2 linked regions of the Homo sapiens genome follow. The protein of the gene in region 1 purifies or fractionates together with the protein of each later gene. This does not show direct contact. Each region holds a gene or a part of one and is shown on either strand. Other genes may lie near its edges.

Region 1 (7,529 bases):
CTGAAAATTTTTAACACTCCTCCCCCAACATCACACACTACTCCTAATCCATGGGAATTGAGGAGATGAGAACAGCTAGAGGAAAATGATGCTTGAAGAGAGAGGAGAGCATTCTATTTTTCCAAAACTCAGCATAGCTCATCTGCTGCTTCCCTTCAGTTTGTCTGAGAATTCATTAATTGAACTCCTAATGCTTAGTGCTCAGCGGATATTGACAGCTTTGCAATTGCTTTTATTACTGATTATTATAAATTACACAATAAGAGACTACCTCCTAAGTGAGTTCTTGGACACATGCAGCGAGTTTTTACCAATAATTATTAAGTATCCCTACACATGTGCATCTTTAGAAAATGCTAGCAATAAGCATTTTAGAAAAGTTTTAAAAATACGGCCGGGAGCAGTGGCTCACACCTATAATCCCAGCACTCTGAGAAGCTGAAGTGGGAGGATCGCTTGAGTCCAAGATTTCCAGACCACCCTGGGAAACATGGCAAAAGGCTGTTTCTACAAAAAAAAAAAATACAAAAAAACTAGCTGGGTGGTGGTGGCACGTGCCTGTAGTCCCACCTATTCGGGAGGCTGAGGCAGGAGGATCACTTGAGCCTAGGATGTTGAGACGGCAGTGAGCCATGTTTGCACCACTGTACTCCAGCCTAAGCGACAGAGCAAGAACCCATCTAAAAAAAAAAAAAAAAAAAAAAAAAACTACTTGAGTGAGAACAGCCCCATATACAATTGTGAAAGAGGCAAGGCCTCTCCTGGTCTCCTGGCATTCTGGTTTGACCAGATATCTGCAATTTTCATAACTGTCATTTTATCACTCTCTTCCTCAAGGAGTTACTTTTACCAGACTCTTCCTCCTTTCTCTCTTCCTTCACTCAAAATATACTTTTATGTAGCTTTTTTGCTATTTAGAAGCAGTTAGAAAAAACCTGAGGAAAATAATTCACTAAAGATATCAAGGGCTAATGAATAGTTATTGTGTTATCATTCCCAGGGTGTGGGCGGTGCTTGTTTTAAGCAAGGAAGGCTTGAAGACTGGGCAATAGCTTAAGAAACTAGAAATATAGAGTTTGTGTGTGGGGATGGTAGCCACAGAGACATTTCTGAGGTCCCTCATATCACACAAGGAAGCAGCCACCTTCACTAATTATGTGACATTTCAGCCGTTTCTGTGGTGACATCATTGAAAAATCTGTACAGGGCCAGCCGTTCCTTATAGATTTTTTGCTGTTCCTCTGTCATTCCATTTGGCTTCGAATAGACAACAGGAAGGAAAAAAGAAGGCAATACAACAACAAAAAATAAATAAAAAAGAAAACAGCAAAACTTGATTAAGACTTGAGTTATTTAAATTTTAAACTTTTACATTGAAATTTTTACTGTTGACACCAAATTTGGGGCCTAAGATCTTTCCTCACATTGTGTTTTAAGTTGAATCGATAATTTGAGCTCAGATCTTGAAGGTGGTTTTTAGAGGGTAAAAAGGCTTGATCGATCTACCTTTGCAAAGTAATATTCCAAATATGAGTTATGAAAATGGCTGTGTTTTCTAAGGATCTCAAAGCCCCCTAGATAAGGACTTCTGGGAGTTATGATAGCTCTATTTTACAGAAGAACATAAACCAAGGTCTAGAGAAGTTGAGAGACCTGATCCAGGCTGCACAGTGAGTCCCCATGTAGGGAAAGGGAACTTTTGTCCTGGGGGTGAAATGAGAGGACTTTCCCATCTCTCAGTTATACAAAAGTTCTACTGATCAGGAGTAGGGTGGGAGTGAGGAAGAGATTGAAATCTGGCTGTTGTCTGATTCCTTGAGTTGTTGAGGTCAGCCACAGAGGAAGGATAAGTCATGGTTATGCTTTGATTTTATGTTGGTGTGTGATTTATGCACTCTGTTAGACAAGCTGCTTTCTTCCCCTGTTCCTCTAACAGGCAGTCTCATTGCTGGAGATGACTGTCAGCTGCTTTCTCTGCATAGCCACCATCACATGCCTCACCACTGGAGCCTGGGAAGCCTGACCACAAACCGGCATCTCCAAGGCATGAATAATTAGGTAGGCATAATGGAAGGCACTCATTGTACCCTCCAATTGCATAAGCCCATTACGGAACTCTGCTACATCAGCTTCTGTCTTCCAAAGGGGGAAGTCAGAGGATTTTCATACAAGGGCACTGTAACTCTAGACAGATCCAATAAAGGTTTTCATAACTGCTACCAAGTCAGGGAGGAGTCAGACATCATCAGCCTCAGCCAGGAGCCGGACGAACATCCAGGCGACATATTTTTCAAGCAGACTCCCACGAAAGACATTCTAACTGAGCTGTACAAACTCACAACAGAGAGGGAGAGACTGCTAACCAATCTCCTGAGCTCAGACCACATCCTGGGGATCACGATGGGGAACCAGGAGGGGAAGCTGCAAGAGCTGTCCGTGAGCCTGGCCCCCGAGGATGACTGTTTCCAGAGTGCTGGTGACTGGCAGGGAGAGCTCCCCGTGGGCCCTCTCAATAAGAGGAGCACCCACGGGAACAAAAAGCCTCGGAGGTCTAGTGGAAGGAGAGAGAGCTTTGGGGCCCTTCCACAGAAGAGGACCAAAAGAAAAGGGCGTGGAGGCCGAGAATCAGCTCCTCTGATGGGCAAGGACAAGATCTGTTCCAGCCACTCCCTTCCTCTTTCTAGAACAAGGCCTAACCTTTGGGTACTAGAGGAGAAAGGAAATCTGCTCCCGAATGGGGCACTTGCCTGCTCCCTGCAGAGGAGAGAGAGCTGCCCCCCAGATATTCCCAAGACGCCAGACACAGACCTTGGCTTTGGGAGCTTTGAGACGGCTTTCAAGGACACTGGGCTTGGAAGAGAAGTGCTGCCCCCTGACTGCAGCTCCACAGAGGCAGGAGGGGATGGCATTCGGAGGCCGCCGAGCGGGCTGGAGCATCAGCAAACAGGTTTGTCTGAAAGTCACCAGGACCCTGAGAAGCATCCAGAGGCAGAAAAGGATGAGATGGAGAAGCCGGCTAAGCGGACTTGCAAGCAGAAACCTGTCTCCAAAGTGGTGGCCAAAGTTCAGGACCTGTCCTCCCAGGTACAAAGAGTAGTTAAAACGCATTCTAAGGGTAAGGAGACGATTGCCATTCGCCCAGCAGCCCACGCTGAGTTTGTACCCAAAGCCGACTTGCTCACCCTCCCGGGAGCTGAGGCTGGGGCTCATGGCTCCAGGCGGCAGGGCAAGGAGCGGCAAGGGGATAGGTCATCGCAGTCGCCAGCCGGGGAAACAGCCTCCATTTCTAGTGTGTCGGCCAGTGCCGAGGGGGCCGTGAACAAGGTCCCCCTGAAGGTGATAGAGAGTGAGAAGTTAGATGAAGCCCCTGAGGGGAAAAGACTGGGCTTCCCTGTCCACACGAGTGTCCCTCACACTCGCCCAGAAACGAGAAACAAGAGGAGAGCCGGGTTGCCCCTTGGTGGCCACAAGTCCTTGTTTCTGGATCTGCCCCACAAAGTAGGTCCTGACTCCTCACAACCCAGAGGTGATAAGAAGAAGCCATCCCCACCAGCACCGGCAGCTCTTGGCAAGGTGTTTAATAATTCAGCCTCGCAGTCCAGCACACACAAACAGACGTCACCTGTTCCCTCGCCTCTGTCTCCAAGGCTCCCCAGCCCTCAGCAGCATCACAGGATCCTCCGGCTCCCTGCATTGCCTGGTGAGAGGGAAGCTGCTCTTAATGACTCTCCTTGTAGAAAGAGCCGTGTCTTCTCTGGGTGCGTCTCTGCTGACACCTTGGAGCCACCATCCTCTGCAAAGGTCACGGAGACCAAAGGAGCCAGCCCGGCCTTCCTCAGAGCAGGCCAACCTCGGTTGGTGCCTGGGGAAACTTTGGAAAAGAGCTTGGGGCCAGGGAAGACCACAGCTGAGCCCCAGCACCAGTCACCTCCAGGTTAGTCTCTGTTTAAGATGCTTTGAATCTATTCTTGGCTGATTGGGGAACTATCAGTCTGCCTGTGCTACTTAGAAACTGACTGATTAACAATGGACCAAAATTCCTAGGCCTATTACTTCACTTTGTAGCAAGAAAACGGGGAGTGGAACAGCGGGGTGTGGAGATGATTAGGATGGTTTTGACCTAGTGGTTCAGAGGTATAGTTGCTTCCAGGACTTTGTGAATGTCTTTTATTTCTTTCTTTTTTTTTTTTTTTGGCATCCTCTAAAGTTACTTCTGTGGTTGCGTAACAGTGACTCTCAAAGGAAAACAGGAACAGGCAGAGAGAAGTGGTAACTTGTCCCTGCCTTTGATGGTAACACTGGGTAATTGGCCTCTTGACCTAAATTCTGCCATTCATGCTGCTGGAGTCATTCTAGGGATTCTCTAAGCAGAAGTGCAAAAGTACGCTGTGTCTTCACTTATGTCTGTAGTTAGAGGTTTTTGTTTGTTTGTTTTTAGTAATCATCTCGATAAGTGCTATTATTTTATGACAAAAACTTTTGTGTTTTAACAGAACAGGAAGGAATTCAGTCTAATTTGAAGAAACTTGGTTCAAAGTTTTCTTTTTTTACAGTTTTTAAATTTCCCAAATAAGCACAAATTGACTTTATTCCGTAGGTATCTTTTACTTATGGGTTGTTACTGTTACTGGTATAGCATCATTTCTTATGTAAAAGGTGCTAAAGAGCTCATTTGACTTACATACTTAATGTGATTTAAAATGTTACATGAAAATAATTTTGTGGATTCAATAGGACCAAAAAAGACTGTGTAAAAGAAGCACTGCTCTGGTATTCATTACATTTTCTAGGCTGTTGTGGCCAGAATCTCAGGGTTTTATATGCCATTGTGCAGGTTATGTGTTCTTTTTCAGAGCTCCTCTAACAGCATGTGGGCAATGCTTTTTCTAGGGAATAGCTCCTAATATGATAGACAGTCTCTTACAGGTTAGAGCAAACATCAAGTGCAATTTTTGAGATAAAAAATATCTATCTAGGGAAGAGGAGCTTCAAAGCTTTTTGGTCATTTTGAACTTGTGAAATTTTATAAATCTCTCTAGATCATTGATCCAGGGGGTAGAGCTTTAAAAATGTGGTAAATGCTTTTCATCTTGTTTTTTGCAATAAATCTTGTTTTGATAAGATTTTCTACTTTCATAACCAATATGCTTCACCAGGAAAGTCACAGAATCGTAGATTTTATATCATGTATTGCAGAACCCTAGTGATGAAAATTCTTTCTCCTGTCGGATGCTGAGGACTTAGAAACACTTGACAAGGAAACTCTCTGAGATTATTAAGAGAGAGATTTCTGGAGGCAAGAGTGTAGAATATCTTAGCTGCCTTAACTCCAAAAACTGCAGAAACTGTGCATTAAATACATTGCTCTTTAGTAAATCCTCTTTTTCCTCAATGTAGGATTATCTTATTATTTTGCCCTTTTTCTATTTGAAAAATATCATAAAAGCTCCAGTGTATCTGGATCAAGGCAGGCACACAGAGCACATTCAGTTTCTGTTGGAGACTGACCGTGAGCCCACTGAGTGACAAGGTGAATGGATGATCACATGTTCCTTTGGCCTCTCCGTGCAATCACTCAACATTCCCTTTACTTTGGCCTCAGCCTTCCATTGGGATCTTCAGCAGCACTTTCAGGAACCAGTCATAAGAACTGTAAGCATCTCCTGTGCTTCTAACCTTATAAAAGAAGAAGCTGGAAAAGGGAAGGAGAGTAGAAGTGGGTAAGAGCTTTTTTTGATATGGGTAACTTCTCTACTGTGGAGACTTCCTATAGGGCCTCCAGCCATTACCTCCTATTGGCCCTACTTTGAAAGGCATGAGGGAGGGAGTTCCCCAGATAGTACCTTTGATTTGTATCCTCTGTCTAGTTCCCTTTTCTCTCTTGATTTTCCCTTTCCTGTCGCTGTGAGTCCTCTTTATATTCTGAACCCTTCAGTGACTCCCTGCAGCTGGGAAGCCCATACAGGGAGAAGTTTCCTGCTTCCAGCTACCTTTGTCTTTCACTTCATTTCTCTTCCCACCTAAACCCAGAAGAGGGCTCAGAGAGTTGCCAGCAGTCCAGAAAGAGGGGTGAATAATTCATTTACCATCACACTACAGTGTCCCTTTATCTGAACCCAACTCCCACCTTTCTCCCAGGTTAGCTATTAACCAGATTAAGTTTATGGTCTGTGGACATTTATTTCCTGTGGAAATAACATCTAGGTATTTTTATTGAAGTGATGTCATTAAGATTATTGAAAGCTCTCATTAACTGCTTAAGAAAGAGATTAAGTCTGGCAAAAGTAATCAGATCTGTTTCCAGTTGGAAGACTCTTCAATGTTAGAGGCAAGTAGTAATTCCCAGGAACCAGTGAAACCCGCTTATCCTTGTTACAAGACTAAGCAGTTAAAGCTGACATTACCATTCATGCAGGATGTAGCATAAGGATGTCACAGAGGCCAGCGATGCACCTTCTGTTGGGTTTGTAATTTCTTAACTTCTCATTTCAAGGATGATGCATGGGAATCTCCATTATCACCACATAGTGGTGATAAAATAGAGAATATACTAACAAGAACTGGTAGTCAGGTTTTTCTTCTCCTGCCTCCTCCCACCACCAACCTGGAGATTGGTTTTATAGTATTTTATTTGGCGGGTGGAGACTGATGTGGAATGTTCCCAAGCCTTTGTGGAGTATGGTCTTCCCCCAAACCTTGAGGAACTCTAGTTGTGCTAGCCTGCAAAGCAGTGTCCTTGGAGCTTGGTGCTAGGATTCCTTTCTGTTTTGCTTGCTTTCATTTACCTTTGATTCAAAGTAAACCCTTTTAGTGCCAGAAGAATCACAGGGAGCTTGGCTCACCATACTTGGGAAATGCCCAATCTTTAGTATGCTCTTGAGTAATCCTGTGGTTGTTTTCCTTTGACTGAAGTCACTGATGTGGTGATGGAAGCATATGCTCCAGGCATAGTTCTTCCTGATATTGAGAACTGAGAATCTCTTGATCAATTCTTGTGCCCATGAAAATATGTAATTAATGTCAACTTATTAAGAGTTAAGAGGCATACATGAAATAAATTTTATTTACATGTGTAAACCCCTAATACTACTGTCAAAGCTTTGATTGTCTCTGTGGATATACATTATGGGAAGTAAATATAAACTCTTCCCATATTAATATTAAGGTTTGATGCAATTCCAATAAAATTGTAAAGAAGCGTCACGACATTAATAGACATATGCAGCCATTTAAGGTTACTACAGAAAGTATGTAGTACAAAGAAAATTATCTAAAATTAATGGAGGGAAAATAGGACTCAAAAATTGCATCAGCCATATTCTACCCATATAAAACAAATACAGGAATTAAGTTGACATAAAGTATGTTGCTATGCACTTTTGAGAAAGTAATAGGATCCCAATTAAAACTCTGTGTAACTATGACCTGGCAATCCCACTTTTAGGAATTTAGCTTACATAAATATATGTACCAATAAGAAATTAGGCATAAGGATGTTTATTGCAGCATTGTCTGTAGTGGCAAAAAAT
Region 2 (3,238 bases), on another chromosome or scaffold:
GTTAGGATTCTAGTTATCCAGCTTTTAAGAACATGTTCTGTTGTTGACAGTATGCTAAGCTGGGCCTGAGTTTGGTGGTTCCAGGAGGGGGAATCAAGAAGAAATCACCTGCAACACCACAGGCCAAGCCTGATGGTGTCACTGCCACGGCTGCTGATGAAGAGGAAGATGAATACTCAGGAGGACTATGCTAGTATTTTGCTTGCTGAAAAGAAAAGGGAAACAAAGGTAAAATCCTGACATGCCATTTCAAGGACTTGGGAATAGATTAGGGATATCCGTACTTCATTACAGTCATGATTTTGGATCCTAATAAAGACTAGTTTTTAGTTACCATCTTCCCAAATCACTCATTGTATCCATTACCTGTGAAGCATATCTTTTTCTTTCCATAAGAGCTTTTCTAAGACACCAGCAGGAATTAACAGAAAATGTACTGTCATGTTTTAATACATTGATTAAAAAATTTGCAAGCCAAATTATACATAAATTATGTTCTAAACAAAAGGGGTAATAAGCATAGGTATTCTCTCTTGGACACTTGTAAGTTACTGTTAGTGAATTGTTTTTTACGTTTCATTTAATAATTGCTGCTAAAGGTGATGTTTACTGATAAATCATTTTAAAATTTTTTTGTTTTGAAAAGTAAATTTATCCCCCATGATGTTAGATACATTTAAATTATTAAGTCTTTTCAGAGATGAGATGGGGACAGGAAGTTATTTTGAGCCTTACAATATTATTTAGCCCAATAAAAGATGCATTGAAGCTCTTATATATTATGAGTTTGAAAAATTTTGAAGGTAGCATATTGAAGTGATCTATAAATATCTTCAGTCCTCTCTGAAGTGTGGGTATTTCTTCTATCTAAAAAATACATACAGTGACTGTCTTCAAATCTACTTGGTTCTTGACCAAATAGGAGCTAATGGGTAATGAATACCTTTTTGTTTGTTTGTTTGTTTGTTTTGTTTTTTGTTTTTTTTTTTAAGGGTCTCACTCTTTTGCCCAGGCTGGAGTGCAGTGGCACAATCACGGCTCCCAGGCTAATGTTTTTATTTTTAATTTGTAATTTTTTTTTTATTTTTTTTGTTGAGATGGAGTTGCTCCATGTTGCACAGGCTGTTCTCAAACTCCTAAGCTCAAGCCATCTGCCTGCCTTGGCCTCCCAAAGTGCTGGGATTGTAGACATAAGCCACCTCACCCAGCCTATGAATATCTTTCTAACATTGTAAGAATGAGGTAATGTTTCCATCAGTCTAATACAGATATATTTCTTCCCTCCAAAACAGTTTATTTTGATTGTTTATTTTATTTTGATTGTAACTCCGTCATAACTTGACATGGAAAATGCTATATACTATGAAAACTTAGCTGAAAGGGAAGAATTGTTTTAGAAAGACAATATTTAAAACACCGCACTGCCAATATATTGATCCTTTATAGTTATTTCCTAAAATGCTGTTTTCGAAACATTCCTTTTTCACCCTGTTGTGTGGCTTAGACCCATCTCGTAATCTGTTAATTGGAAAGAGGCTACAGACACCAGCAGTGTGCGTTCTGCAGGTACACGCTGCCAAAGTAATTCCTGCTCATCCATGCCCTGTCTCTGTCTCTTTTAGAGTCATACCTTATTTGAGTATAGGTTGCTTAATTTTGCTAGACTTCCTGAAAACACTAAGGTGGAGTATCAGAAGTGATTTTAGTCACAGTTCTGCGGGAGAGCTTAGAATAACATCCTCCTTTGGGAGGTGGTCTCGGGTGCGTGGATGTTGGTATACAGTCTTTATTGTAAGTCTGATACAAAATGCTAATAAATTTAATGTTTTTCTTCCTTAATTTATTGGCATAGTTCTTCAGGTAGCACCTCATTTTTATTAATGATATTGGGATTAACTATGAACAAGCTATATGTAGACATTTGCATTTAAGGACATTGCAGTGTTTCAAAGATCCCATCATTGCAGCTTGTATCCTTTAGATCCAATCGGAAACTTCTGGAGTCTTACATTAATGCTCATTTGAGCTAATTAGTAATCTGTTTAAACAGATTTGGCAATACTTTAAAGATACTGTAGACTATTTATGTATAGATAGATCATATTACCCATTAAAGTCTGGGGGAAAAAATTTTTTAATTTTACTCTTCTTATGTACTGAAAACTTTTTTTAAAAAAGGTGATGATGAAGTGCATTCTGTAGCAGCAGCGCAGCTATGCTTTAAACCACACAAAAGGCTGTGTCCAGGTGCAGCCTCCTTCACCCTTCCTGCCCACGGTGAGGATTGAATAACCAGGACTTGGGGATATTGTTTGTTGTCAGGGTTATTCTGTGTGGTAAGGAATATTTGTTTCACATTTATACATTTTCTTTTTCCACTCACGTAAGTTTCTATCTTGAGAGCATAGTCCAAAGTGCAAAACTTGGTGTTTACAAGGAAAATTGTCTTCCAGAACTCCACTGTCATCACTTTCACCAAAGTGGAAGTTTGCATGAATATGCTCAGAATCTAATATTCAATGTTCTGTTACATTGTAAGTGAAGTCCAGCTACAAAATAGATTTAATATATTGAATTTATTTGTACATATGCAGAGTACGGTATTTCTGTATGGAATCTGCTTTATTCCTATTTTTCCCAACTCTGATGAGTAGAATATTAAATGTGTTGTTATGGAAATACAGATTATTGCTTCTATAGGAAGATAATTATGAAAATAAAACCTGAAACTATATAAATATAATTGTTCTTTGTATTATTTATTTTGTTTAGCTTGTTTTAATTTTCTTTTTTCCAGGGACACATTCTCTTAATTATATGACTTCAGCATTATTTTACAAGGACAGTATTTTGTTATCTGCAGTTGTCTTTTCTGCTCTTTGGGAGTAAGGTACCTTTGGGAATTTAAACTGTTTGAGCTTCTTAAAATACCAGTCATTCAGTTATTGTAATACTACATATACTGCTGTTTGGTGAGATGAAAGACTAATACCTCTTCCAAGAGAGTAATTCTTTGATTGGGTTAAGTGAGATAAAACCATGTATGATTAGGAGGCTAAGAGAACTGATGTGAAATTGTTTACATAATTAGCACCTTAAATACTAGCAGATTTACTTACAATCAGACATTTATTGGATGCTAACTATGTAATATTATCCCTGTCTTTCATGGAATGGAAATTAATAATATAATTTGATACCTGGATTCAGGAGAAGTTGAAGTAAGAAAGAATGCAGA

Evidence for each region.
Region 2: the proteins of FMN1 (region 1) and NAPG purify together in Homo sapiens (affinity purification with mass spectrometry; 2 studies listed by BioGRID and IntAct, with this or other methods). This does not show direct contact.

What each region holds. Positions count from the first base shown.
Region 1 is NC_000015.10:33,149,453-33,156,981, reverse strand, and holds part of FMN1 (formin-1), read left to right. Parts: intron 1-1,936; 5' UTR 1,937-2,067; coding exon 2,068-3,934; intron 3,935-4,194; exon of another isoform or gene 4,195-5,602; coding exon of another isoform or gene 5,603-5,724; exon of another isoform or gene 5,725-6,429; coding exon of another isoform or gene 6,430-6,463; exon of another isoform or gene 6,464-7,198; intron 7,199-7,529. UniProt on the Homo sapiens protein: Plays a role in the formation of adherens junction and the polymerization of linear actin cables.
Region 2 is NC_000018.10:10,550,027-10,553,264, forward strand, and holds the end of NAPG (gamma-soluble NSF attachment protein), read left to right. Parts: intron 1-50; coding exon 51-194; 3' UTR 195-2,738; downstream 2,739-3,238. UniProt on the Homo sapiens protein: Required for vesicular transport between the endoplasmic reticulum and the Golgi apparatus.